Regions from separate parts of the Homo sapiens genome. Here regions 1, 2, 3, 4 and 5 are each linked to region 6. The links come from fine-mapping of genetic effects on gene expression. A gene starts in region 6. Each other region holds a variant in brackets. All regions are shown on one strand. Distances are between the middles of the regions.

Evidence for each region. PIP is the estimated chance that this variant, and not a neighbour inherited with it, causes the effect. A credible set is the group of variants that fine-mapping cannot tell apart.
Region 1: its variant is the best candidate, but not a certain one, in a credible set for the expression of STPG1 in whole blood (INTERVAL, PIP 0.51).
Region 2: its variant is the best candidate, but not a certain one, in a credible set for the expression of STPG1 in esophagus mucosa (GTEx, PIP 0.58).
Region 3: its variant is the best candidate, but not a certain one, in a credible set for the expression of STPG1 in thyroid (GTEx, PIP 0.79).
Region 4: its variant is the best candidate, but not a certain one, in a credible set for the expression of STPG1 in gastroesophageal junction (GTEx, PIP 0.76).
Region 5: its variant is the best candidate, but not a certain one, in a credible set for the expression of STPG1 in whole blood (INTERVAL, PIP 0.78).

The regions. Positions count from the first base shown.
Region 1 is chr1:24,436,748-24,440,747 of GRCh38, forward strand. NIPAL3 (NIPA like domain containing 3) reads left to right here. Exons shown (of 12, transcript NM_020448.5): 3 at 3,425-3,493. Among named protein-coding and RNA genes, the nearest start is that of NIPAL3, 23 kb to the left of the region's middle. The variant G/T (reference allele first, on the strand shown) is at 2,300.
Region 2 is chr1:24,369,041-24,373,213 of GRCh38, forward strand. STPG1 (sperm tail PG-rich repeat containing 1) reads right to left here. Exons shown (of 9, transcript NM_001199013.2): 7 at 634-799. Among named protein-coding and RNA genes, the nearest start is that of STPG1, 43 kb to the right of the region's middle. The variant C/T (reference allele first, on the strand shown) is at 2,499.
Region 3 is chr1:24,376,113-24,380,285 of GRCh38, forward strand. It overlaps STPG1 (sperm tail PG-rich repeat containing 1), which reads right to left. Exons shown (of 9, transcript NM_001199013.2): 5 at 3,541-3,711. Among named protein-coding and RNA genes, the nearest start is that of STPG1, 36 kb to the right of the region's middle. The variant ATCC/A (reference allele first, on the strand shown) is at 1,897.
Region 4 is chr1:24,341,848-24,346,020 of GRCh38, forward strand. It overlaps GRHL3 (grainyhead like transcription factor 3), which reads left to right. Exons shown (of 16, transcript NM_198173.3): 9 at 268-426; 10 at 847-925; 11 at 1,045-1,178; 12 at 3,050-3,084. Among named protein-coding and RNA genes, the nearest start is that of GRHL3-AS1, 22 kb to the left of the region's middle. RefSeq lists an enhancer at 712-1,526. The variant T/C (reference allele first, on the strand shown) is at 2,092.
Region 5 is chr1:24,452,364-24,456,363 of GRCh38, forward strand. NIPAL3 (NIPA like domain containing 3) reads left to right here. Exons shown (of 12, transcript NM_020448.5): 7 at 1,045-1,141; 8 at 3,775-3,910. Among named protein-coding and RNA genes, the nearest start is that of NIPAL3, 39 kb to the left of the region's middle. RefSeq lists an enhancer at 3,450-3,962. The variant T/C (reference allele first, on the strand shown) is at 2,394.
Region 6 is chr1:24,411,752-24,415,751 of GRCh38, forward strand. It overlaps STPG1 (sperm tail PG-rich repeat containing 1), which reads right to left and starts at 2,031. Exons shown (of 9, transcript NM_001199013.2): 1 at 1,923-2,031. It also overlaps a transcript of NIPAL3 not described here. RefSeq lists an enhancer at 1,527-1,646.

The DNA.
Region 1 (4,000 bases), 25 kb after region 6:
CTTGGCCTCCCAAACTGCTGGGATTACAGGCGTGAGCCACCGCGCCCAGCCTTTTGTTTGCCTTATATGTGATGACCAGGGTTTTAGTTGTACATAGCAGGAAGAATAGGGAAAAGTACATCTACTCCATCTTCCCAGAAGCAGATGTTCTATAATTGACTTTTTAAATGGAAAGTTATAAAATAATTTTTTGTATGCAAGGAGCATTAAAATATTGAAACTGGCTGGGCGTGGTGGCTCACGCCTGTAATCCCAGCACTTTGGGAGGCCGAAGCGGTCGGATCATGAGGTCAGGAGATTGAGACCATCCTGGATAACACGGTGAAACCCACCTCTCTACTAAAAATACAAAATAATAGCCGGGCGAGGTGGCGGGCGCCTGTAGTCCCAGCTACTTGGGAGGCTGAGGCAGGAGAATGGCGTGAACCCGGGAGGTGGAGTTTGCAGTGAGCCGAGATTGCGCCACTGCACTCCAGCCTGGGCGACAGAGTGAGACTCCATCTCAAAAAAATATTGAAACTAAGATTCATTATATTTGTAAATACAATTTGTTAGATGTATAATAATTAGTTCTGTGGTAAGGTTTTATTTCAAAAAACTAAATTTGAATAACATATTTCTTTTTACAAAATAAAAGCAGATTGCCTTTTTTGTCCACCAAAGCCATGGCTCTAAGGGGGAAGAAAAAACCTCGCTCATGTTTATGAGAAGTTGGGCTAATAATAAACATGTCCCAAAATGCTTTCCACAAAGTGCTGATTCTGTTGAGCTTTTTAGTTGCAAGTAACAGAAGCAAGTTCTTAAGCAAAATTGGGCTGTTCCTGGCTTCAGGAAGGTCTGGAACCAGGAGGTCTGGAACCAGGATGGCCCCAGGGTCCTGAGGAGCGACAACTAATGATTTGCTCAGGCCTCACCTTGGGCTGAAGGGAGTCAACCTTTCTTCAGCCTTTGTGTTTCTCAGTCCAAGATCTGGATCCCAGAGAAAGAGATTCTGGGCTGCCTGGCTTGGGTCACACTTGGGCCGTGATGTCTAGGGAGGATGGAGCACTGGGAATGACAGTTCCAATAAGACCGTGTCCAATGGGGAGGGGGCGGAGGAGAGTCCTCCCCAGCAAAATCAGGGTGTCGTTTATCAGAAGAAAAGGAAAGGATTAAAATGTTAGTCAAGTGAGAGTCATAGATGTTTACTCCAGATGCTGATGGCTGGATTCCAGGTTAAGAGTTCTAGAGCCAAATGAGTTTGAGAACCTGAGTTAGACAAGGAGAAACTCCCCTGAGAGCCTCTAACATGCTCTGGGGGCCTCCCAGCAGTGGGTAGAGGATGCATTGCCTTTAACTACATGGTGCTTTTCTTGCCTTGGCACCCCATTAGCATCTCTGGGAACTCAGCTGGGGAAACCCTGGCTGGGCAGGTCTCCAGCGAGCCTTTTAGCTCTGAGATCCTGTCATCCCACAGGAAGGACGTGTTCTGCCTGCAGGTGGCTTTATTCTGTCTTGCTGCTCATCGGGTGAGTCAGAATCAGTTCCCAGCTCTGACCTTTTCCAGGTGGGGGACACATCTCAGGTGTGGTGAGGTTGTGGCAGAGCTGGGACTAGACTGGGGTCCCCTGGCTCCACATCTTTCCCTTCTGTGGCAGCGCTGAGCCTTGTTGGGAGAGAAGTTAAGGACAGCTATCCATAGTGATTTCAGTTGGTGGGCCTCCCTCTCGGTCCTCCTGCCCTCTCCCGTCCCTGGCCAACTGCCCCTTCTCAGGGAAGACCTGCCCTCAGCTCTCTAAGCCCCGCGATCTAGGAGAGGGCAGGGGGGAGGGTTGACTTCACTGTTACTGCTGACTGTGTCCTGAGGGGGAAGCCTCGGCCAGCTCTGGCCACTGCGGGGCAGCTTGCTAATTATCTGTCTTTCCAGATGGACTGAACATATGACAGTGAGGACTGTTTGTCTTGTTAACTGCCGATTCCCTAGGGCCTGTCCCCCGCCTTAAAGAATGGGCAGGATTTCACCAGGGAGGGGAACCAGGCGGGGTTGGGAAGAGAACATGCTGGGAAGGAGGTTGCAGCATTGGCCAGCATAGAGCATTCCTTGGTGTTCAGTGGTGGAATATGGATGGAGGGTGTGTTGGGGACTTGCTATAGTGTGGTTTAAATGCTAGTACACTTTGACCCAGCAATTCCACTTACAAGAATTTGTCCCAAGGGACTAATCCATACAAACGCACAAAAATGTGTGCACTAGGCTATTCAATCACAGCATTGTTTTTTTAAAAGGAAACATAATAGACACGGGGGACTCCAAAACGGG[G/T]AGGGGTGGGGGTGAGAGTTGAAAAATTACCGATTGGGTACTGTGTTCACTTATTTGGGTGATGGGTTCACTAGAAACCCAAACCTCAGCATTACACAATTTACCCATGTAACACACCTGCCCATTTACCCCGACTCTAAAATAAAGTTAAATGAAAAATTAATAATAAAGGAAACAGCCTAAATATCCAGTAATAGCAAAGCAATGATATAAAATATGGCACATCCAAAAATAATGAGTTATTTGACATTTAATAAAAATGACAAATTAGGTATGCCTGACAGGGAAATGTGCTCACAATATGTTAAGTAAAAAAACAGATTATAAAACAGATGGTAATCTTATTTTTATAAAGTAAATTAACATTTCCATTGATATGTAAATTTATGGACAGAAAAATGTTTGCAGGAATAAGAACCAAAATGTTTATAGTCATTATCTCTGGGTTATAGAATTAAAAGTGACTTTTCTATTATGGTGGTGTTGTTATTGTTATTTTTTTCATTTTTTTCTCATGCTACCTTGTCTAAGATATTATTATTTTTATCTATATATATTTCCTATTTAGTCTACAATGAATATATGTTTGGTAATCATTTTAGAAAGTACAAAATTCCGTGCCAGGTAGTCTGAACCTAACTCATAGGTGATGTAAATTAACTTTTTATAAATTGAGTAATTGACAATGCCCTAAGCAAGTGAGCCAGTTAAAAGAGTTTCATTGAAACCCTCTGGGAAATTGAAGACACTATTGACAAGATAGCAAAAAGTATTCTCTGGCCTATATTTCTCTTGTAAATTCTGATTTTGGAATGTTGCTTTTCTGCACAAGATGGTGGCAAGTTAATACTTTAAAGGGAATAGCACAGCAGGTTTAGACCTTGTCAGGTCAGTGTGATCGGGCCACCAAAGTATCCAATTCAGGGCAGCATTTTGTAAACCAGCAAAGCAGCCAGATTAACCTTCAGTAGTAACATTCCAGTTGTGGGTCTGGAGTGTGGCTTTGTCACTGATATTGTTTTTCTGGTTTTGTTTTGGGGCAGCAAATGGTTGAGTGTCAGAAGTGTCCTGGGGCCCCCTGGCTTGTGCCCAAATCATGTCCACTCCTGTGAACTTTCCTTACAGGAAAACCTGATTGGCGCCCTCTTGGCGATCTTCGGGCACCTCGTGGTCAGCATTGCACTTAACCTCCAGGTAAGTTTCAGTTACCAGCACTGTCTGGGGACAGAGACACAGCAGACAAGTCAGGGTGTCTTATCCAGGTCCAGCTGCCTCCTCTCTGCAGGGCCTTGCCTACTGCATCCCTGGGCTGCACCTGGGACAATACCTTGTGGGCCGTTCCAGGATTTCTCTTGATTCAGTGGCCCCACTCCATCCCGCCCTCGCCCTCCTAGCCAGGTCCTCACTGTCTCTCCTTGGGCTTTGCAGTGACCTCCTGCTAGCTTCTCTGGCTCTGGTCTCATCCCTCTTTGCCTTGCTGCAAAGCTGCTGGAATTACCATAGTTTTGTCAAATTCAACTCTAATTACAGCACTGTTCATTACTTAAAAGCCTCAGGGATGCCCTCTACAGCTGCTGTGGATCCCCCCACTGACCTCCAAATCCCCTCGGCCTGTCTGAGTTCACAAGCAGCTGTGGTGTGTAGCAAGTTGATAGCTAATGAGCTTCTCATGGGGGCACCAAGGAGCTGGTGTTACTGGCA
Region 2 (4,173 bases), 43 kb before region 6:
GAGGCAGGAATTATTCCCACCTTACAGATGAGGGCATGGAGGCTCAGAGAGGTTAGAACTCTGCCCAAGGTCACAGAGCATAAAAACAGCAGAGCTGAAGTACAAATCCAGCAGGTATCACCAACTCGAAAGTCAGGGCTTAAACTTCCATCGGTATAAAGCTATGAGAGCTTGACTGCTTCTGAATGTCCTGCCACTCCAGCGAAGATTTTATGTTACAAAAATAGAACAATGTCAGCACCAGGGGAATCCAGCATCACAGGGAATGAGGAAAGACTTAGTCCTGAGCCAATTCCCTGTGGCTCCTCAAGTTGGCTGTGTGGACTTGGGCAAATGTCCCGCCAAATCCGAAGCCTTGCTTCCTCCTCTATGGGGTAAGAGTAACAATTCTTACAACAGGATTATAATAATAATTGAATACAATTTTAAGTTCCTGGCACACAGTGGTTGCTCAATAAGTATCAGGCATTCAACAGGCATTTACTGAGCATCATTATGTGTGACTAAGGGCCCCTGAAGAGAGTGGCCCGGCACTGTGCTCTGCCAAGCAGTGACACCCCATCCTTTTCTCTATGTTGGGCTTCTTCCCCACAACCACCTTTCAAAAGAAAGACCAGAATGATTGGGACTCACGGGAAAAGAGTCTTTTTTGGAACTTTTGTGCAATCACTGGGGTTGTAATAACCAGGTCCCGGGCCTGTTGACGTCAGTTTTAATCCACGGTTGGTTTTTGATTTAAAACAAGACATTAATGTATTTGGCGACTGCTTCACAAGGGATTCGTTGATATCATAATGCCCTAAGGAGAAAGAAATTTTAGGACAGAATAAGGAACTCTTCTCAAGTAAATAAAAAGCAGTACCTTACCCCTAAGAACACACCTGATGGCTGCAAGGCACCATCACTCTAGGATGGCCAAGTGGAAGGGCTGACTGAGATAGCCAAAAACAATCCTCACCATGCAGAGAACAGATGGCACGGGAAGCACACACTTAGCTGATTTAGTTCTCGCACTAGCCTGGCAAGATGAGTATTACTGCTTTCATTCTACACATGGGAAACTGAGACTCAGAGATTGTTAAATAATTTGCCAAAGGACATTCATCTAACCAGGGACTTAGACAAATCTCTCCACCTTGCTGGAGCCCAGTTTTCCTTCTCTATAAACTAAGAATAATAATTCTTCTGACAACAGAGTTGTTATGACAGTTGAATAATATTTTAAGTTCCTAGCACATAGTGGATGCTTTGTAAATATCATGCAATCAACAACTATCTTTTTTTTTTTTTTTTGAGATAGGGTCTTGCTCTCTTGTCCAGGCTGGAATGCAGTGGCACAATCACAATCACAGCTCACTGTAGCCTTGACCTGCTGGGCTCAGTGATCCTCCCATCTCAGTCTCCCGAGTAGCTGAGACTACAGGTATGTACCACCACACCCTGCAAATTAAAAAAAAAATTTTTTTTTTGAGACAGAGTCTCGCTCTGTCGCCCAGGCTGGAGTGCAGTGGCGTGATCTCAGCTCACTGCAAGCTCTGCCTCCCAGGTTCACGCCATTCTCCTGCCTCAGCCTCCCAAGTAGCTGGGACTACAGATGCCCACCACCACGCCTGGCTAATTTTTTGTATTTTTAGTAGAGATGGGGTTTCACCATGTTAGCCAGGATGGTCTCGATCTCCTGACCTCGTGATCCGCCTGCCTCGGCCTCCCAAAGTGCTGGGATTATAGGCGTGAGCCACTGTGCCCAGCTTTTTTTTTTTTGTAGAAATGAGGCCTCATTATTTTACCCAGGCTGGTGTTGAACTTGTGAGCTCAAGCAATCCCCCCACCTCAGCCTCCCAAAGTGCTAGGACTACAGGTGTGAGCCATCATGCCCAGCTAACATGTATGTGTTGAGCACCACTATGTAGAGACTGGTCTGCTTGTCTCCAAAGCCCACACTTCCCCACCACACCACAATGCCCTGTCTCAAGAAACTGTGACAGAATAAAATGAATTTGTGTACAAAGCTTTAAGGAAGAAGAGAATGACCAAAACTGGGGTGAAGAGGAAGCGATCTCACCCCTAAGTTGTCAGTAGCCCTGTGAATGGATGTTCTCCACCACTCTATTCATATTAGCAATCAATTCAAAATAATCACAATTTTCAATAAGACAATACTGGCTCCTTAATTTATGGTACTATCATATAAGAATATACTATATATTTATTTAAAATGATGTTCCGAAAGGATTTTTACTAACATGAAAAGACGTTCCCAGTATCAGCCGGGTACGGTGGCTCACACCTATAATCCCAGCACTTTGGGAAGGCAAGGTGGGCAGAACACTTGAGGTCAGGAGTTTGAGACCAGCCTGACCAATATGGTGAGACACCATCTCTACTAAAAATATTTAAAAAATTAGCCAGGTGTGGTGGTGTGCACCTGTATTCTCAGCTGTTCTGGAGGCTGAGGCAGGAGAATCACTTGAACCCAGGAGGCGAAGGTTGCAGTGAGC[C/T]GAGATTGCACCGTTGCTCTCCAGCCTGGGCAACAGAGCGAGACTCCCTCTCAAAAAAAAAAAAAAAAATGTTCCCAGTATATGCTTAAATTTTTAAAGAAGCAGATGTCAGCAGCATTTACAATACTGGATAACTATCTCTCATATTCTCTGTTTTGTATATATATTTCTACTAAAAAGGTTATAGCAACACTTGAATTACAAAATACAGAAAACAATGAAAAGCAAAAGCAAGGAATAGAAGGCATTTATGCTGCCACTACCAGAGAGAGCCAGCCGCCAGGAAGCTGGGGTGGAGGGTGAGCTGAAGGTACCAGATATTGAACTAGATGAGCCTGGATTAAAATCCAGCTGTGGGGCTGGGCGTGGTTGCTCACACCTGTAATCCCAGCACTTTGGGAGGCCGAGGCAGACGGATCACTTGAGGTCAGGAGTTTGAGACCAGCCTGGCCCACATGGTGAAATCCTGTTTTTACTAAAAATACAAAAGTTAGCCGGGCGTGGCGGCGCATGCCTGTAATCCCAGCTACTTGGGAGGCTGAGGCAGGAGAATCACTTGAACCCGGGGGGCGGAGGTTGCGGTGAGCCGAGATCGTGCCACTGCACTCCAGCCTGGGTAACAGAGCAAGACTCCATCTCCAAAAAAACAAAACAAAACAAAACAAAAACAAAAAAATCCAGCTGTTGGACACTGGGCCTGTCACCTGCTTTTCTATCTCCTCTGCCTGTGAAGTGGGGATAAAAGAAGAAGAAGAGCTCACACTTTCTGAGCCCATGATTATGTGGTGAGTACCTGCTCCATGGGGCTTTGGAGCATTCAGTGAGATAATGAATGTAAGGCCCCTGGCACCCACGGGGAGCTTAACAGATGCTAGTACCCACACTTCCCCTCCTGTTCTGTGTTATAAGGGGCTGGGGGCTTCTCAGGATCCCCCCACCCCGGGAGGGAGCAGGAGCAGGGGCAGACTGTGGAGGTGCCCACATCCCAGGGCTCACTGGCAGGGACTCTGGCCAACCCCAGGGATGCTGGCTTTGTTCTTCTGTATAAATAGACAAGGTGGGGTTTTGCCCATGGATGATGCAAGGCAGGAGAGCATGAACTGGGGCTGAGCCTCCTAATTAGCGCTGGTTTTGTTATTCAGCTTCAGATTGATCTTTTCAACTTTAATCTGGATTTGCTGAAATCTCACATGCACTACAATTTTATCCACACCCCTCTGCAAGAGGCATGATTGCAGAAGCAAACCTTCCCTGCTCCTCCTCCTGCTTCTGGGGCCCAAGGTTCCTGGGGCAGCTCTGGTGCCCAGGGCTTCTGGGGTTGGGGTGTGGTCTGTGGGACCTATTTGGGATAATCTAATATAATAAGTGCTCCAGCACTGGAGGTCAGAGAGCACAGGAGAGGTGCAACACCCTTCCCCAAGGCCGGCAGGGGAAACACTTGCAGGAAAGCTCTTGTGTATTCCTGAATCTTGGAGGTTCCAGAAGGGACAATGGAATGATGGAGGACGTGGGCTCGTTAGTGAGACCCCTCTGGGCTTGTGTCTGCCATTTACTGGCTGTGTGACACTGGGCAAGTCATTTCAACTCTCTGAGCCTCCACTTCCTCATCTGAAAAGTAGGGCTAAGTGGATGAACCTATGACGGCAGACCTGCAAGACTGCATGGAAACCACTCA
Region 3 (4,173 bases), 36 kb before region 6:
CAGGTTCAAGCAATTCTCTTGCCTCAGCCTCCCGAGTAGCTGGGATTACAGGTGTGTGCCACCATGCCTGGCTTATTTTTGTATTTTTAGTAGAGGCGAGGTTTCACTATATTGGCCAGGCTGGTCTCAAACTCCTGACCTCAGGTGATCTGTCCACCTTGGCCTCCCAAAGTGCTGGGATTACAGGCGTGAGCCACTGTGCCTGGCCTGCACCTGGTTTTTGATGCAGTGGTTTCCCTTGGGAAGTAGAATTATAAGGGACTTCCACTTTCTAATTAATGGGTTTCTACAGGGCTTGAATATATTTTATGATGAGCGTGTATTATTTTCAGGGTCATATTAAGACAATAATGAACAAAAAACATGCGCCTAAATGTATCTATTGGCAGAAGGACACAATTCTATCTTGGGAAGAGGTCCTTTCTAGATTAACAGCTGCATACTACTGGAAAGTTATTCCTTTGATGTCATAAACATTGATTGGATGCTTACTGCATCCCAGGACCTGTGCTGGGCATTGGAGACAGGAAGCCGGGTGAAGGAGTAGACAGTGATTCGGGGAGAATGGTGCATGAAACACTGACGGCAGCATCCTTCAGCTACAACCGGGAGGCTGCAGAGAGGGGCATCCGCACAGACAGTCGGTGCCTGTGTTTTTCTCCCAAGTAGCCTGGTTCCCACTTGGGACTGACAAAGGGGCAATGGCTAAGCCCCTTTCTGATCACTTTCTTGTATCACACCTTGCCATCTCTCCTGTTAGCATAATAATCTCCTCGCTGGTTTTCCAGAACCCACTCTCCAACCCACACTGCAGTCCATTCACCACACAGCAGCTGGAAGGAACTTTTTAAAAAATATGTCAGATTGGCTGGAAGCTGTGGCTCATGCCTGTAATCCCAGCACTTTGGGAGGCCGAGGTGGATGGATTACGAGGTCAGGAGTTTGAGACAAGCCTGGCCAACATGGTGAAACCCCATCTCTACTAAAAAAAAAAAAATACAAAAATTAGTTGGGCATGGTGGCATGTGCCTGTAATCCCAGCTGAGGCAGGAGAATTACTTGAATTGGGGAGGCGGAGGTTGCAGTGAGCCAAGATCGTGCCACTGCACTCCAGCCTGGGCGACAGAGCAAGACTCCATCTAAAAAAAAAGCATCAGATCACACCACCCCATACCTCCAGCCCCACTCATGGGCTTCCTAGGACCCAGAGAACAAAATGTGAACTTCCTCCTGGGATCTTCAGGGCCCTGTGTGAATTGGCCGGTGTCTGTCTGGTGCCCCCTTCTCCCTTCTCCTCTTGCTCATCCTACACTAGCCACTCAACCTTCCTGAAGGTCCTCGTGGGCTGGGCTCCTTGCTATACCAGGACCTTGGCACATGCTCTTTCTCCAACCCTGGCTCTTCCTCAATCCTTGGGTCTCAGTCTCGGAGCCTTCTCTGACCACCAAGTCAGAGAAGGCTGACTTGGTACTGCCAACCTCCATATCTCCCACATATTCTCCCTCAAGCTCCAGCTGTCCCTCAAAGTTGACCACAGTTTGTAATTATTTTGTTTGTTTACCTGTTCTTTTCTGAATTCCCCACTGGAATCTAAGCTGTATCACCAGCCTGGCACAGAGGAGCAACAGGATCCACAGAGGGAAGCCTGTCAGGGCTGGAATGAGGTGACTTTGATCATTCCCCAGCTTTCCACCCCAGCCATCCACTGGTGCCCACTGAAGTGCAAATGATGCCTTCAAGCTGGGTAACTGTGCAAGTCCCTTCACCTCTCTGAGCCTTAGCTTTCTCTTCTTTATACTGGGAACAAGATAATCCACTTTATGGATTCACTTGTGAGTATTAAATATGATTAATACATAACTCTTAGACCAGCACTTAGTACATGAGAAGTGCTTC[ATCC/A]TCCTCCTCCTCCTCCTCATCATTTTCAGGCTCTGATTATGCCGAGGGAAGACTGCCTGGAGTTGGACTGCCCAGTATAGTAGCCACAGGTTGCATGTGGCTATTGGCCCTGGAAACGTGGCTGGCCCAAATTAAAATGTGCTGGAAGAATAAAACACATACTGGATTTTAAAGACTCACTACAAGGAAAATAGTCTTCCTCAAATATAAAATTCATAACTTTTATATTGATTAGTGTTGAAATGATAATATTTTGGATCTGTTGGGTAAACTATATTACTCAAATTAACTTCATCTGTCCCTTTTTCTTTTTAGATGTGGCTACTAGAAAATCTTAAATGAGGCCGGGCACGGTGGCTCCCGCCTGTAATCCCAGCACTTTGGGAGGCCGAGGCAGGTGGATCACGAGATCAGGAGATTGAGACCATCCTGGCTAACCCAGTGAAACCCCATCTCTACTAAAAATACAAAAAATTAGCCGGGTGTGGTGGCGGGTGCCTGTAGTCCCAGCAACTTGGGAGGCTGAGGCAGGAGAATGGTGTGAACCCAGGAGGTGGAGCCTGCAGATTGCACCACTGCTCTCCAGCCTGGGCAACAGAGCAAGACTCCGTCTCAAAAAAAAGCTTGAATCCATCATAGAAGGTGGGCAGGATTTTTGTAGTCAGAAAAATAATTATTAATTATCAATATTATGAAGGAAAAAAGGAAATGGTATAATAAATGTATAAAACCAAAATAGTTTGGAAAATGGCATAACATTAATGTCTTAAGTACAATTCATATCTTGCGCACTTCAGAGTGCTTTCACGTTCGTTGCCTTATGGTAACCCTGTAGGGCAAGTAGAATTGATTCCATTGTACAGTGGGGGCTGTGACTTACTTACTTGCTTGTATTTAAGGGTAAGTAAATACCCTTCATGTACTAACAAAGACAGCCCTACCAATCTCCATGTATTGTGTGGTCCTTGTGTGACTGGTGCTGTCCTGGGCATGAAGCATACATTATCTCATTTAATATTTGCATTAACACGATGAGGTGAACATACATCACCATTTTACAGATCAGTAAACTAAGCCCTGGAAAGGTTAAGGGACTTGCCGAAGGCCGCACAGTTAGAAAGTGGCAACAGATGAGAGCTAAACCAAACCTTCCTGAGTCCATCTCTTAACCATCCATGCCATTCTGCGTCAGTGAATACAAAGCGATCATAATTGGCACAGCAGGGCACGACTGTTAAAACACCTATTTTCTGATATGAAAGTTTATTTTCCCTAGAAGAACCTAAAAAGTAAATCATTAGTGGCTGCAGACAAAGTGGTAAATAATACACCCATTGTTACAGATGAGAAAACTACGTCCCAGAAAGGTTACAGGACAAGAGTAATTAGAATATGTGTTTCTCAGGGCAGTGGCCTCCCCACAGCTTGATACTGGCCTCCATGTTGCCCATCCTGATCTCTGGGGTCTGCAAATTCCCTGTAAGAGTCTTGTACAGCCTTAGGCACCCATTGGGTAGTCAACAAATGCTAACTGGCTTGACAACTGCATTAAAATACGATGTCCCCAAGATCCCCTCTTCCTTTTATTTTAGTAAACCATTAATTCGATCTGTATTTAGCAAGCATAGGCAGAGTTCTTACATTGTAATAGTTTGGTGCAGGAGTTTCAAACTTGAGAGCTTTCATAAAGCTTGGCAACTGGAACATGCTGGAACACGAATTACTAAAGTCTCTCTTGGAAATAAAATCCGATGGGATAGTGTATGCATTCGCTGCAGGGTATTTAGAAATGATGGTGTCCAATCGGGCGCACTGTAAGGAGACAACCAAAGGAATCAGCATTGTCACATAATATTGTGGATCTGAAGGACAGATGTCAAAAAGATGGTGACCAGCACAAGGTCTAAATGCATTTTATAAAAGGCGAAACTCTGGCAGTAACAATGATAAACTGACCTCAGGCTTTGAGGATCTTCCCTTGGAAAACGCAAGTTCAGACCTGTACTCGCTTCTGTAAACTAACTCAAATTATTCATCTTCTGTTTGGGACTTGGCAAAAATGATTTTGCCATAAATGCATTTCCACCCAATCCTGTTCCAGGCCACTTACCCTTGACTCATCAGCTGTTGGGTAATTTATGTGATAGGAAGCTTTAGATGCTCTTCTCAGCCTAGGCTTTTCTTCTGAGTAAAATCTCACATCTTGTTTCTAAGGTTAAATGATCTGAACTGCCTAAGCAACGAGTTTGCTTCAAACAAAGCTCCAGGGGGCTT
Region 4 (4,173 bases), 70 kb before region 6:
CGGTGAAAAGCCTGGGCTGTGAGTCTGGGTTCAAACCCCTGCTGCACCACACACTGCCCGTGTCACCTCGGGAAAGTTGCCCCACCTCTCTGAGCATTGGCTTCCCCATCTGTGAAAGAGGAGTGCTGATGTTTGCCTTCTAGGGGCCTAGTGAGGCTTAAGGGTGAGCAGCAGGCACACAGAAAGCTAGAAATACAGGATCACTGTGGGACGGTGGGGCTGGCCACCTGGGCAGGCCACTTACCCAGCGGCCCCCTCTGTCTCCAGGTGTTCATCGGCGTAAACTGTCTGAGCACAGACTTTTCCTCACAAAAGGGGGTGAAGGGTGTCCCCCTGAACCTGCAGATTGACACCTATGACTGTGGCTTGGGCACTGAGCGCCTGGTACACCGTGCTGTCTGCCAGATCAAGATCTTCTGTGACAAGGTGGCTGGACTGGGCAGACCCTATACTGGGTCCCGGGGAGGTAGAAGGGCCAAACCCTGACCCGTGCGTCCTCCTAGCTTCTCTGGGTTGTCTGTCTCTCTCTGTTTTTCTATCCCTTCTCCTCCTTCCCCTCTCCTCCTCCACCCCCACTCCTCCATCTCTCTGTCTCTCTGAGTTTCTTCTTTTCTGTCTTCTGTCTGTCCGCCTCTCTCATGGCCTGTAGTGACCTCAGGCAAGCAGGGCCAGGCCCCACTGGCCAGGCTGGGCCAGGTAAGTGCTGGTACCTTCCCATTTCCTGGTCTTGTTCTGGAAAAAAGAAGGACCAGAAGCTTGGCCCATATTTAAGATGCAAAGCAGCAGCTGTGAAAGTAGCTAGCCCCTCCCAGGCCCTTGGTGACCCTCTCTCCTTCTCCCCTGCAGGGAGCTGAGAGGAAGATGCGCGATGACGAGCGGAAGCAGTTCCGGAGGAAGGTCAAGTGCCCTGACTCCAGCAACAGTGGTCAGTGGGGATCCAGGGCCTGGGTGGGCTCGGCTGGCGTGAAGGGGAGAAGGAGACCAGAGGTGGGAGGGACTTGAGTGGAGGGACCTCGGGGCACATTGGCTTCCTTCTCCCATCAGGCGTCAAGGGCTGCCTGCTGTCGGGCTTCAGGGGCAATGAGACGACCTACCTTCGGCCAGAGACTGACCTGGAGACGCCACCCGTGCTGTTCATCCCCAATGTGCACTTCTCCAGCCTGCAGCGCTCTGGAGGGGTGAGGCCAGGGCTGGGGTCTCGGGAAGGAGCCGAGAGAGGGTCCTGGCTCCTAGGTGGGGCCTGCCTTAGCACAGACCAGTGGGGAGCAGCCTGCCCCTCAGCCAGTTTCAAGACCTTTATTGAATCATAGGGGTTTAAACATGTATATATGGTCCTATAGCTTCAGTGACCTATTGTATTGAAGAGAAGAATGTTATGAAGAAACAGATTTCGTAACCATTAAAACGTTCATGCTTAGGGCACACAAAGAGGAGGCTTCTGATATCTGACCCCAAATTTGATTGCAGCCCCATGGAATTCTCACGGCAGCACTTGTGGTGCTCACTGTGTGCCAGGTGCGGCTCTGAGCGCTTCCCAGGCATCACCGTCCTTACCCTTCTCTACAGCCCTGGGAAGTCAATAATAATGTCTCCCTGGATCTGTGGGGTAGAAATGGAGGCACAGAGAAGTTAAGAAACCTCCTGAGATTGCACAGCTAGTAAGTGGCAGAGCCAGGATCTGGACTGAGGCACCTGTTCAGAATCCACACCTTTCCCCACTAGCTGCTCCGCCTCTCAAGCAGCCGGGACTGAGCGCCTGGCAGCCAGGAGTGGGCTGGGTTCCCTGTTACAGCTGTCCTCCGAGAGACTGCACCTACCCCCTTTTCCAGGCACGGTCCCACAACAATTCAATGGCAGGGTCAAGACCCCAGAGCCTGTCTCCTAGTGCGCTTCCATACTGGAGAGTCTGAGCATTTCCTTCCTTTAAGGGTACAGCTCCGCACTGTTTCTTCAGGAATATTTATACAAATGGACCTTGGTGTACAAGGCATGTTTAGTGTATTGACTTAGGACAATGAGGTGTAGACAGTGGCGCTGAGAAGAGCGGCCAGTGCTGACAGAGCTTGGCACAGGCGCAGAGCACTGTCTGTG[T/C]CCCTCCTCTCTTTGCCATCTTGGGAGCTGCGCTGTGGCCCCGCAGCACAGGCGGCTGTGTGAACCTGTTCTCTCTTGGCTCTCCTCACTCTCTCACCAACTAGAGGCCCTCAGTAAGGAGATGACCACTCAGGGTGAAGGCCCCTGTGGCTAGGTTGACAGTCAACCTGTGGGGGTTGAGGGTGGGCCAGTCTCCACACCTGTGAGCCTGGGAGAGGGGAAGCCCAGGGCAATAGCCAACAGAGAGCCTGAGTTTGAACCCTGACTCTGCCTCCTGCCGGGCGTGTCATCTCTAGAGCTCTCTGCTCTCTCTAGGCCTCAGCTTCTTACCTCACAAGACTGACTGATGCCTGCCCCACACCGCACAGTGCCAGGCACACTGTAGGGTCCAAGAAGAGGGCCTCTGGCCAGGCTTAGTGGCACACACCTGTAATCCCAGCTACTTGGGAAGCTGAGGCCGCAGGATTGCTTCAGCCCAGGAGGTCGAGGCTGCAGTGAGCTGTGATGGTGGGACTGCACTCCAGCCTGGGAGACTCTTTCCCCCCAGAAAAAAAAAAAAAAAAAAAAAAAAAAAAAGCCCTGTTGCCCTTGCTCCCTTGGCCCTCAGCTCCAACTGCCTAGTTACCGGCCGCAGGACCATCTGCAATTCCCAGCCCTTCTGGGCATGCTGGGGCCCAGGTGGGGCTCAGTGTGACTCTGCTCTGACAACATGGCTTTAGCACCTCCTGTGTGTTCATTGAGTCCTTGACCCATCCAGCTCGGGCTGGGTGATTCCTTTCCACTCAACATCTCAGGTCACTTAAGGGCACTTGTCTGAGCAGAATGGGCTAGAAAGGCATTGTAACAGTATTCTCCCCACCTCCCACCAAAAATATTCCTCCCAGAGAGCCTCCAGCAGCCAGGGGCTCCTCTCATTTTCCTGCGTGTGATGGAAAATGTCTTTTTCACTTCATTGCAGGCAGCCCCCTCGGCAGGACCCAGCAGCTCCAACAGGTATGGAGAGAAACAACCACACGCCTCCCTCCACACCTGTGCACCCTCCACACCTGTGCCCCCTCCACACCTGTGCCTCCGCCACACCTGTGCCCCCTCTACACCTGTGCCCCCTCCACACCTGTGCCCCTCCACACCTGTGCCCCCTCTACACCTGTGCCCCTCCACACCTGTGCCCCCTTTACACCTGTGCCCCTCCACACCTGTGCCCCCTCTACACCTGTGCCCCCTCCACACCTGTGCCCCCTCTACACCTGTGCCCCCTCTACACCTGTGCCCCCTCCACACCTGTGCGCCTCCACACCTGTGCCCCCTCCACACCTGTGCCCCCTCCACACCTGTGCCCCTCCACACCTGTGCCTCCGCCACACCTGTACCCCCTCTACACCTGTGCCCTCTGTACCATGCCCACTGTACCATGCCCATTGCCCCCAGCCTGCTTTTCTCCCTGTTCCTTGCAAGCTAGGGTGTGGGGCCAGAGGAGGAAGCCACCAGCTTCTGCCCCCAGCCCCCAAGCTAGATCCATGCTTCTTTCTCACTGAAACTGCCTGGGTTTTTATGGGTTTGTTTTATGTGAAAAGTCGGCGAATCTCTGGCGAGACACCCGCTTGTAAAAAGGGAAAGGAAAAGAGTCTGTGGTGGTGCAGATTCAGAGAGAAGAGGGAAGCTGTGCTGGAGGCTTAGGGGATGAAAACCCTCCATCTCCTTCCCCAACACACCCCCACTGGGGGGCCTAGCTGGGGCCGGCACCCCTTGACACTTTGGCCTAGGAAGGGCCTTTGTGTCCTTCCCTCTGTCAGTCACAGCCTTAGTGCCCTGAGCAGTCCCTTCACCTCTCTGAGCCTCAGCCTACACATTTGTCAGATGAGGAAAACAGCCTCGAGAGGGTGAGGAGGGCGGTGTGGATATGGAATCTTCGTAAGTGGGAAAGCACTTTATGAAGATCATTTGCTGTTATGATCAGTTTCTTCCCTATGAACAAAATGTACTTTTCACTTGGTGCTTTCACCCCAAATTATGTCACTTGTCACCTCACAACAGCCTCAGAGTTAGGCAAGCAGGGTTATTGCCTTGCTTTATGGATGCGGA
Region 5 (4,000 bases), 41 kb after region 6:
CTGTGCCACGCCATCGTGGTAGTACCTGCTTCGTAGAGTTATTGTGCTGATTTAGTGAGTTTAACGTAGATAAAATGCTTAGAACACTGCCTGGCGTACAAGGAGACGTCATTTAGTGTAAGCTATGATTATGGGCCCATAAAAAGAATTCTTAACCCTACTCCACAGAGGGTTAACTAAGGTTTAGAGAAGTTAAGTGACTTACCCAAGGCCACACGACTAGTTTAGAGGCAGACCTAAGTTCCAGCCCAGGTCTCCCTGACTCCAAAGGCCTTCCTCATTCTACTCTGTGAAGCTTCACACTGGAAGCTTGGCTGGGAGCACAGGGAGTATATACTCATATTCTTTATTTATGTATTTATTTATTTTTTTGAGATGGAGCCTCGCTCTGTCTCCCAGGATGGAGTGCAGTGGCGTGATCTCAGCAATTCTCCTGCCTCAGCCTCCTGAGTAGCTGGGATTATAGGCAGATGCCACCACGCCCAGCTAATTTTTTTTTTTTTTTTTTTTGTATTTTTAGTAGAGACCGGGTTTCACCATGTTGGCCAGGCTGGTCTCGAACTCCTGACTTCAGGTGATCCACCCGCCTTGGCCTCCCAAAGTGCTAGGGTTACAGGTGTGAGCCACCGTGCCTGGCCTCACATTCTTGACCAAATAGGTTGGTGAACAAGTGTCTCCCTCTTGGACCAACCCATTGTTTTAATGGGGATGCCCATGGAGCAGTGGAGTGGGAAGAAACCATCTCAGCCTGATGCATCTTGGCCCTCCAAGAAAGAGTGGATATGAGAGCAGCACGTCACCCTCAAAGCTTCAGCCTCAGGACAACAGGGAATTCCTTCTCAGTACTAGCCAGGGATTAGAGAGATTCACTCTGTGTTTCCCTTTTCCCCTGAACGTCTAACAGTAGTTTGGGAAATGCTGAATCATAGCTCAGTCATTCCCTTTCAACCCTGTGACTCTGGTGATGGCCCAGCCCACCAGGGTCTCCCGGTCTCGCCTACTTCTGTGGTCCCCACTGACCCCCCTGCTTGCTGCCTTCCACAGCTGGTGGAGATCATTCTGTTCTGCTTGCTGCTCTACTTCTACAAGGAGAAGAACGCCAACAACATTGTCGTGATTCTTCTCTTGGTGGCGTTACTTGGTAAGTTGGCATCTGGATGATTGAGTTTTGCCACCACCAAGAAGCACCAAATGGAAATGTGGGTTTTGTTTGCAGAGCTGTAGCCGCTGGGCACAGAAGTTGCTTGAGACTGGCTGAGGTTGTTCTGTCTCCATCAGTGGCTCTGGGGAGCTGGGTCCCTGCTGACCGGAGGCAAACTCCTGTGCTCCAGGAGCCTCCAATCTAAAGGGAGAAAATAGCACTAAACAACTAGCCAAATTCATAGGTCATGTAAGTTTGGGCAATAACAATTCCAATGAGGAAGAATAAAGTAGAGTGAGGATGAGGTGAGTTAGTTTGTTTCAGAGACGGTAGTAGTAGAGCATGCCCCAGCGATTGAGCCCTGAAAAGATCCATGCAAAACCTATCAGAGCTTAGGGATTCATTCTGATTCAAAGGTAAAACTAGATTTTGTCATCTATTTTTTCTTTTCCTTTTAGAGGGATGGGTGCTGTGGAAGAGATAGCTCCTGAATCAGCTTGAGGCTAGAACTGCATATTAATTTTTCCTTTTTTTTTTTTTTTGAGACAGTCTTGCTCTGTCACCCAGGCTGGAGTGCAGTGGTACAATCTTAGCTCTCTGCAGCCTTGACCTCCTGGCCTCAAGTGATCCCCCTGCCTCGGCCTCCCAAAGTGCCAGGATTACAGGCATGAGGCCCTGTACCTGGCTAGAACTGCATATAATTTTATAGCTAAATAGAGCTGTGGGGAATCCATCCTTCCTGAGGAGAAGCAGACAGAGGCGGAGGAGCAGGCTGGTGTCAGGGCTGGTGAAGCCTGCTACCGCGCTGCTCTTGAGTGGCCTCAGGCTAATGACCCTCCCTCCTTAAGCCACGCTGTCCACTTCTCTAAAGGGGGGGCCTATGAGAACATCCAAGTCACGGAAGGGAGTGGGGGTTAAATGAGATGTGCACAGGTGGCTAATATGTGCATTTTTCTTCCAACCTTCCTACTGTGTGCCCTACCACCGCCACAAGCCATCAACCAAATAGATACCTGTCACCGAAGACAGGGTTTCCTTAATTTTTTAACAGCTCTGTTGAGATATAATTTACATACCATAAAGTTCACCTGTTTAAAGTATACAATTCAGTGGTTTTTAGTATTTCATAGAGTTGTGAAACCATCATCCTAATCTAATTTTAGAACATTTTGTCACCCCCAAAAGAAACCCTGTGCCCATTAGCAGTCACTCCCTGTTCCCCTTTTCCCAGCCTCAGGCAACCACTAAGCTA[T/C]CTTCTGTCCCTGTAGATTTGCCTTTTTGAACACCTTCATAAATAAAGTCGTATGCTTTGTGGCCTGATATGACTGGCTTCTTTCACTGAGCATGATGATTCTGAGGTTCACCCACATCATAGCATGAATCAGTCCTTCATTCCTCGGTGACTTTGTTTTCAAAGTGGATGGGAAGGATCACGGCCCTGAAACATCCTCTCCTCTTACGTAGGAAGGCCAGAAGGTTCTGAGGCCATTGGCCAATCCCCTTCTGACTAAGAAGGACTACCTGATGACAAGTGCCTAAGTGGTTGCTGACGTTTGGAAACAGTAGCCTAATGGGTGAGGAGCCCAAGAGACACTGCGTGTTGGGGGTGTTGGCAGGAGAAAGCGAAATAAACCAAAGCTGAAGAATAGGAAAGCAAAGCACAGCAGCAGGGACCGGGGGCTTCACCTGGACCACGCTTGGGGGCTGTCTCTAACTCCTGTTTGGCAGGGCAGTCTGAAAGTCTGCAGTTAGAAGACATTTCTGAACAGTAGGGTGGAGCAAGGGTCTCCACAGGGAGGTGAGCAGGATGCTTCGCTGGGTACACAGAGAGAATATTAGAACTTCAATCATTTTTTCTCTGCCTTTTAAATTATATTCCTGTACAAATTTTATAACATGCCTACCATTTAAGTTCAGGGTCACATGACTTTAATTTGAAAACAGATACACACATATTGGAAATGTTTGCACATATGCACAGGGGTGTGCATTCCAAAACACTGGAGAAATGTTTTTAAAAATACAAGTGACCAGCTGGGCGCGGAGGCTCACGCCTGTAATCCCAGCTATTAGGGAGGCAGAGATGGGAGGGTAGCTTGAGCCCAAGAATTCAAGACCTGCCTGGGCAATATAGCGAGACCCTGTTGTCCACAAAAAGGAAAAAAAAAAATACAACAACAACAAAAAATACAAGTGACTGAGCACTAAAAAACCCAACAATTCCTAAGCTGTTTACCCAACACATGTTTTTCCTGTGGTTGCCATGAGACTGGTAAGTTCGTTGATCCACTCGGATCCTTTTGGCCACAGTGCTGGGCACTCCGGGCCTCAGAGAACTGAACTTACTGCCCATGCTTGGCAGTTTAGAAGTGATGTCTAGGATTACCTTCAGGGGGTTGGCTTTCCTCCCTCCTTTAGGATGTAGTCAGCACAGAGCATGGGAGTCCATGGGAGAGGTGCACACGAGACCCAGTGCAAACGGCGTCTGTCACTGTGCAAACTGCCGGCTTGACTCTGTTCCTGTTCCCTCCCCTCTGTCTCCCCAAGTCCTTTGGGGTTATAGACTGGCTTTCCGGACCTAACTCTCTGCATTTCCCTGAGGCTCCCCATTCGCCCTTGTCTCCCATCTGCAGGCTCCATGACAGTGGTGACAGTCAAGGCCGTGGCTGGGATGCTTGTCTTGTCCATTCAAGGGAACCTGCAGCTTGACTACCCCATCTTCTACGTGATGTTCGTGTGCATGGTGGCAACCGCCGTCTATCAGGCTGCGTGAGTTACAAATCCTTTTCCTGCTGGGCCCTGCCATTCGGGCTGCTTCTCTTTTGGGGGCCTGATGACGTATGCTGTGAAGCCACAAGG
Region 6 (4,000 bases):
TGAAGTTACAATATTGCATATAGTTTTCAAAATATAAAGCAAATAAGGGATGGCTGGGTGGGGGCAAATATTTGACTCTCTTGAATATTCACAGAATGCTAGGTTTCATCAGAACACAGTTTAAAAACTCCTGGGGGAAGTTCACTGTTGGACAGTTCTAATTGCTAGAAAGTTCCTTCCTGTATCAAAGCTGATTCTCTCTCTCTTTTTTTCTTTTTCTATCCGTCCTAATTCCCACCCTTGGAACCAACTCAAAGTAAGTCTCATTTCTCTTCCACATTGGTGATTTTCAAAATGCAAGTCATAGTCTGTAGTCTTTTGTGAAGTTTTAGTTTGTCATATGCGTGTGTGCATGCTGGGTCACAATATAAAATGCATTTACCATGAGTCACAGTCAAAAGGTTTGAAAGCCACTGTTCTATATGACTATTCTGCAAGAATTTGAAGGCAGTTGTCGTGCCCCACCACCTAAAGACTAATCTTCTTCTCCACATGGGACCTCCCTGGCTTTTGCCACATATCTCCTTGCTGCATGGGGAGCTCCTTTCCTCACCGGACCCAGGCATCGTCCTGCAGTCCTGTCACAAAATTCACGAGACTCTCTGCTCAAACCTTCTTAGGGATGACTTCCCTGACCACCCTCTCTTAAGAAGCACCAACCCATCTCTCTCTAGCCCCTTACTCTGCTTTATCTTTTTCAAAGCACTTTTCACTACCCAACATTATATTGTATGTTTATTACTTTATTTGTTTATGATCTTCCCCAGTAGAAAGTTCAACTCTGAATCTTCAGTCTATTTCCTCACATACAGTATTTGCTCAATTGGCCAGGCATGGTGGCCCACACCCGTAATCCCAGCACTTTGAGAGGCTGAGGGGGAAGGATGGCTTGAGACAGAAGTTCAAGACTACCCTGGGCAACATAGCAAGGCCCTGTCTCTACAAAAATAATAATAATAGTATTGAGAATTTTTAAAATTAGTATTTTCTTCATAAATATTGGTGGAATGAATGAATGAATGAATACTAGAGGTAGACACCTTTTAGCAATTGTGTGTACAGCTGTGCTCAGAATATATTTCCAGCGGGAGTTAGATTCTACAAGGACAGCTCACATGATCACAACTATAGGCACAGTTTCATTTTATCATCTCTTGTGTTTTTAAAAAACGTTATATATGCTAAGTATTACAGTTTACATTATACATGTTACTGTACAGGGTATATAAACATGTACTAAACTATGTATACTGTTACTTTAGATAGAATTTTTTTGGATGTCCTGAGTAGTTTCGTCTGTAGGCGATTTTTATCTACTCAGTTATAAGCATCTTGGAAGCAGCTTACATTTTTTCAAAGCACTCTCAGGTAAATAACCCATTCGATAGTCTTCATAGGCTGAGAAAGTGTATCAGGGAGCTGGAAGGAAATTTAGCGGCGGGCTAGTGACCACCAGGTTCCAATCTCACCCTTTTATTTTACAGATGGGTAAATCGAGGCCCAGAGCAGGGAAGTCGTTTGCTGGGGGACACCCCCTGAGCTGGGGTGAACCTATGAGTAGAGATCAGGTCTTTGGCGTCCACCCACTGCCAGGCACTGAAGCCTCCCAACTTTTGCGCACTCGCGGAGCCTGAGCCAGAAGGGTCGGACGCCCACGCCCCTGGCAGGAGCTCGGTGGAGCAGGCAAGCCCCAGTTGTCACCACTTTTCGGGTGGAAACACCGAGGACACGCCCCGACGCAGGGGCAACTCCCATGGTGGCTTCTTCCCGCCCTCGGGGCTCCACCTAGCTCAGCCCTGGAATTCCGCAAGCACCCGGAGGCCGGGGGGTCTCCGCGGGCGTCCCATGCGGAGGACATGGTGCGCCGTGTCCTCTTCCCCACGACCTCAGGGACCGGTCCCCCCGCCGGAACTGCTTCCTACCTGGTCCGGTCCCGGCAGCTGAATCTGGCCAGCCCAACCTCCCGGTCGCTATGGCACCCACAGGCCTAACATTCGCGAGTCCACCTTCCGCCGTCCGCGAGGTAACTCCAGCCAATGGCATCCTCTGTTTCTTTAACGTGAAAAGTTGTTGACCAATCATTAGAGGCGTTTCAAAGTCCGCAGAGAAGCCGGCCGAATTTTAGGGCTTAGGTTAATTACATCAGGGCCTGTAGCGGGGTGGGGAACTAATAAGAGGTTTATCTAGGCCATGCTTCAAAAATCTTGTGATAAACCAAAAGCCTCAGAATTTTGCTCACTCAAAAATCCTGCTTCAAGGAATATACCTAAAAGAATTAACATTCATCCAAGCCCTGTTTCTTTTTTTTTTGAGACAGAGTCTCGCTTTGTCGAGCAGGCTGTAGTGCAGTGGCGCAATCTTGGCTCACTGCAACCTCCGCCCTCCAGGTTCAAGCGATGCTCCTGCTTCAGCCTCCTGAGTAGCTGGGATTACCGGCGCTCGCCACCACGCCAGGCTATTCTTTTTGTATTTTTAGTAGAGACAGGGTTTCACCACGTTGGCCAGGCTGGTCTCGAACTCCTGACCTCAGGTGATCCACCCGCCTCGGCCTCCCAAAGTGTTGGGATTACAGGCGTGAGCCACCACGCCCGGCCCCAAGCCCTGTTTCTAACAGAAGAAAAAAAAAAAAATTGACATGGGCGACTATACAAGGGCAGCCACTTAGTATTCCAGGAGCCCCTCTTCACACGCTTCAGGGCAGGGCGGTCTCAGCGACCTTGTCACTCCCCTGCTTAAAGTCCTCCAATGGCTCGCCTTTAAATTTAGGGTGAAATCCAAGCTTTTTTTTTTTTTTTTTTTTTTTTGACAGGGTCTTGCTCTGTCGCCCAGCTGGAGTGCAGTGGCGCGATCTCGACTCGCTGCAACCTCCGCCTCCCGAGTTCAAGCGATCCTCCCGCCTCAGCCTCCTGAGTAGCTGGGACCACGGGCGCTCGCCACCACGCCCGGCTAATTTTTAAATTTTTTTGTAGAGATGGGGTCCCACTATATTGTCCAGGCTGGTCTCAAACTCCTGGGCTTAAGTGATCCTCCTGGCCTCCCAAAGTCCTGAGATTACAGGTGTGAGCCACCGCGCCGGCCCCCAAATATGTTATTTATAAACTGTCCCTGGCCCGTCCCTCAGATCGCAGGCCCAACCACGCCCCCAGAAAAATCTCTCACCAGCCCTGCTGGCCTTCGGGCAGTTTCTACAATGCACCAACTCGTTCCTCTCCCATGTTCCCAAGGAGCTTTCTCTGCCCCACGATCTGAGACTAGAACTGCCTCTTTCTCATTGTTGATGTCTAGGCCCAAATGACATTTCTTCATACGTAAAACGGGCTTCAAGTCTCACTCATGGCTGTGACGATCTGAAAGCAAATGCGTGTATATGACAACGTGTGAGCGATGAGAAGCTTGTCATCTGTAAAACTCCATGCGCATGTTAATTATCATGGCCGTGATAATTATGTACATTATAGAAACATTAACCAAGCGCTGGGCTCGTTTCAGGACCTTCAGTATTGCTGGGAGGCTTGGTATCCGACAGGTGTTCCAGGAGGGCAGGAAAGGAGAGATATGTTTGGTCCCAAGTCTCGCGAGGGCTCTGGGGAGCGCTGGGTCTTCAAGGACGTTTTGGATTTGAATACTTGGTGAGAGCGTCGGGTAGGGGAACAGCAGGAGCAAAGCCCGGAAGGTGGCTATGAGGATAAGAAGGGAGGACACCTGGCAGGCTGCTAAAACCAGGCCCACCTGCCGGGCAGGTGGAGGCGAGCAACCACCTAAGCTCTCTGGGACAGCGGGAGAGGGGGCAGGGGAGTCGCCGCACCATTCTTCCTGTGGCCGCTAGGGGGTCCCCGCTCCAGGTGAGCGCCAAGCTCTAGCCCCAGGTCGCTCCCTTATGCTTCAAGCAAGCTTTGCAGCGCAGCCAATTGCCAGGGGCTGTCCCGCCTACTCCCCGTCCTCGCAGCCACTTGCCTGCGCGAAATGCCTGCCAACTTCTGACTGGCAGGCAGTCTGGCAA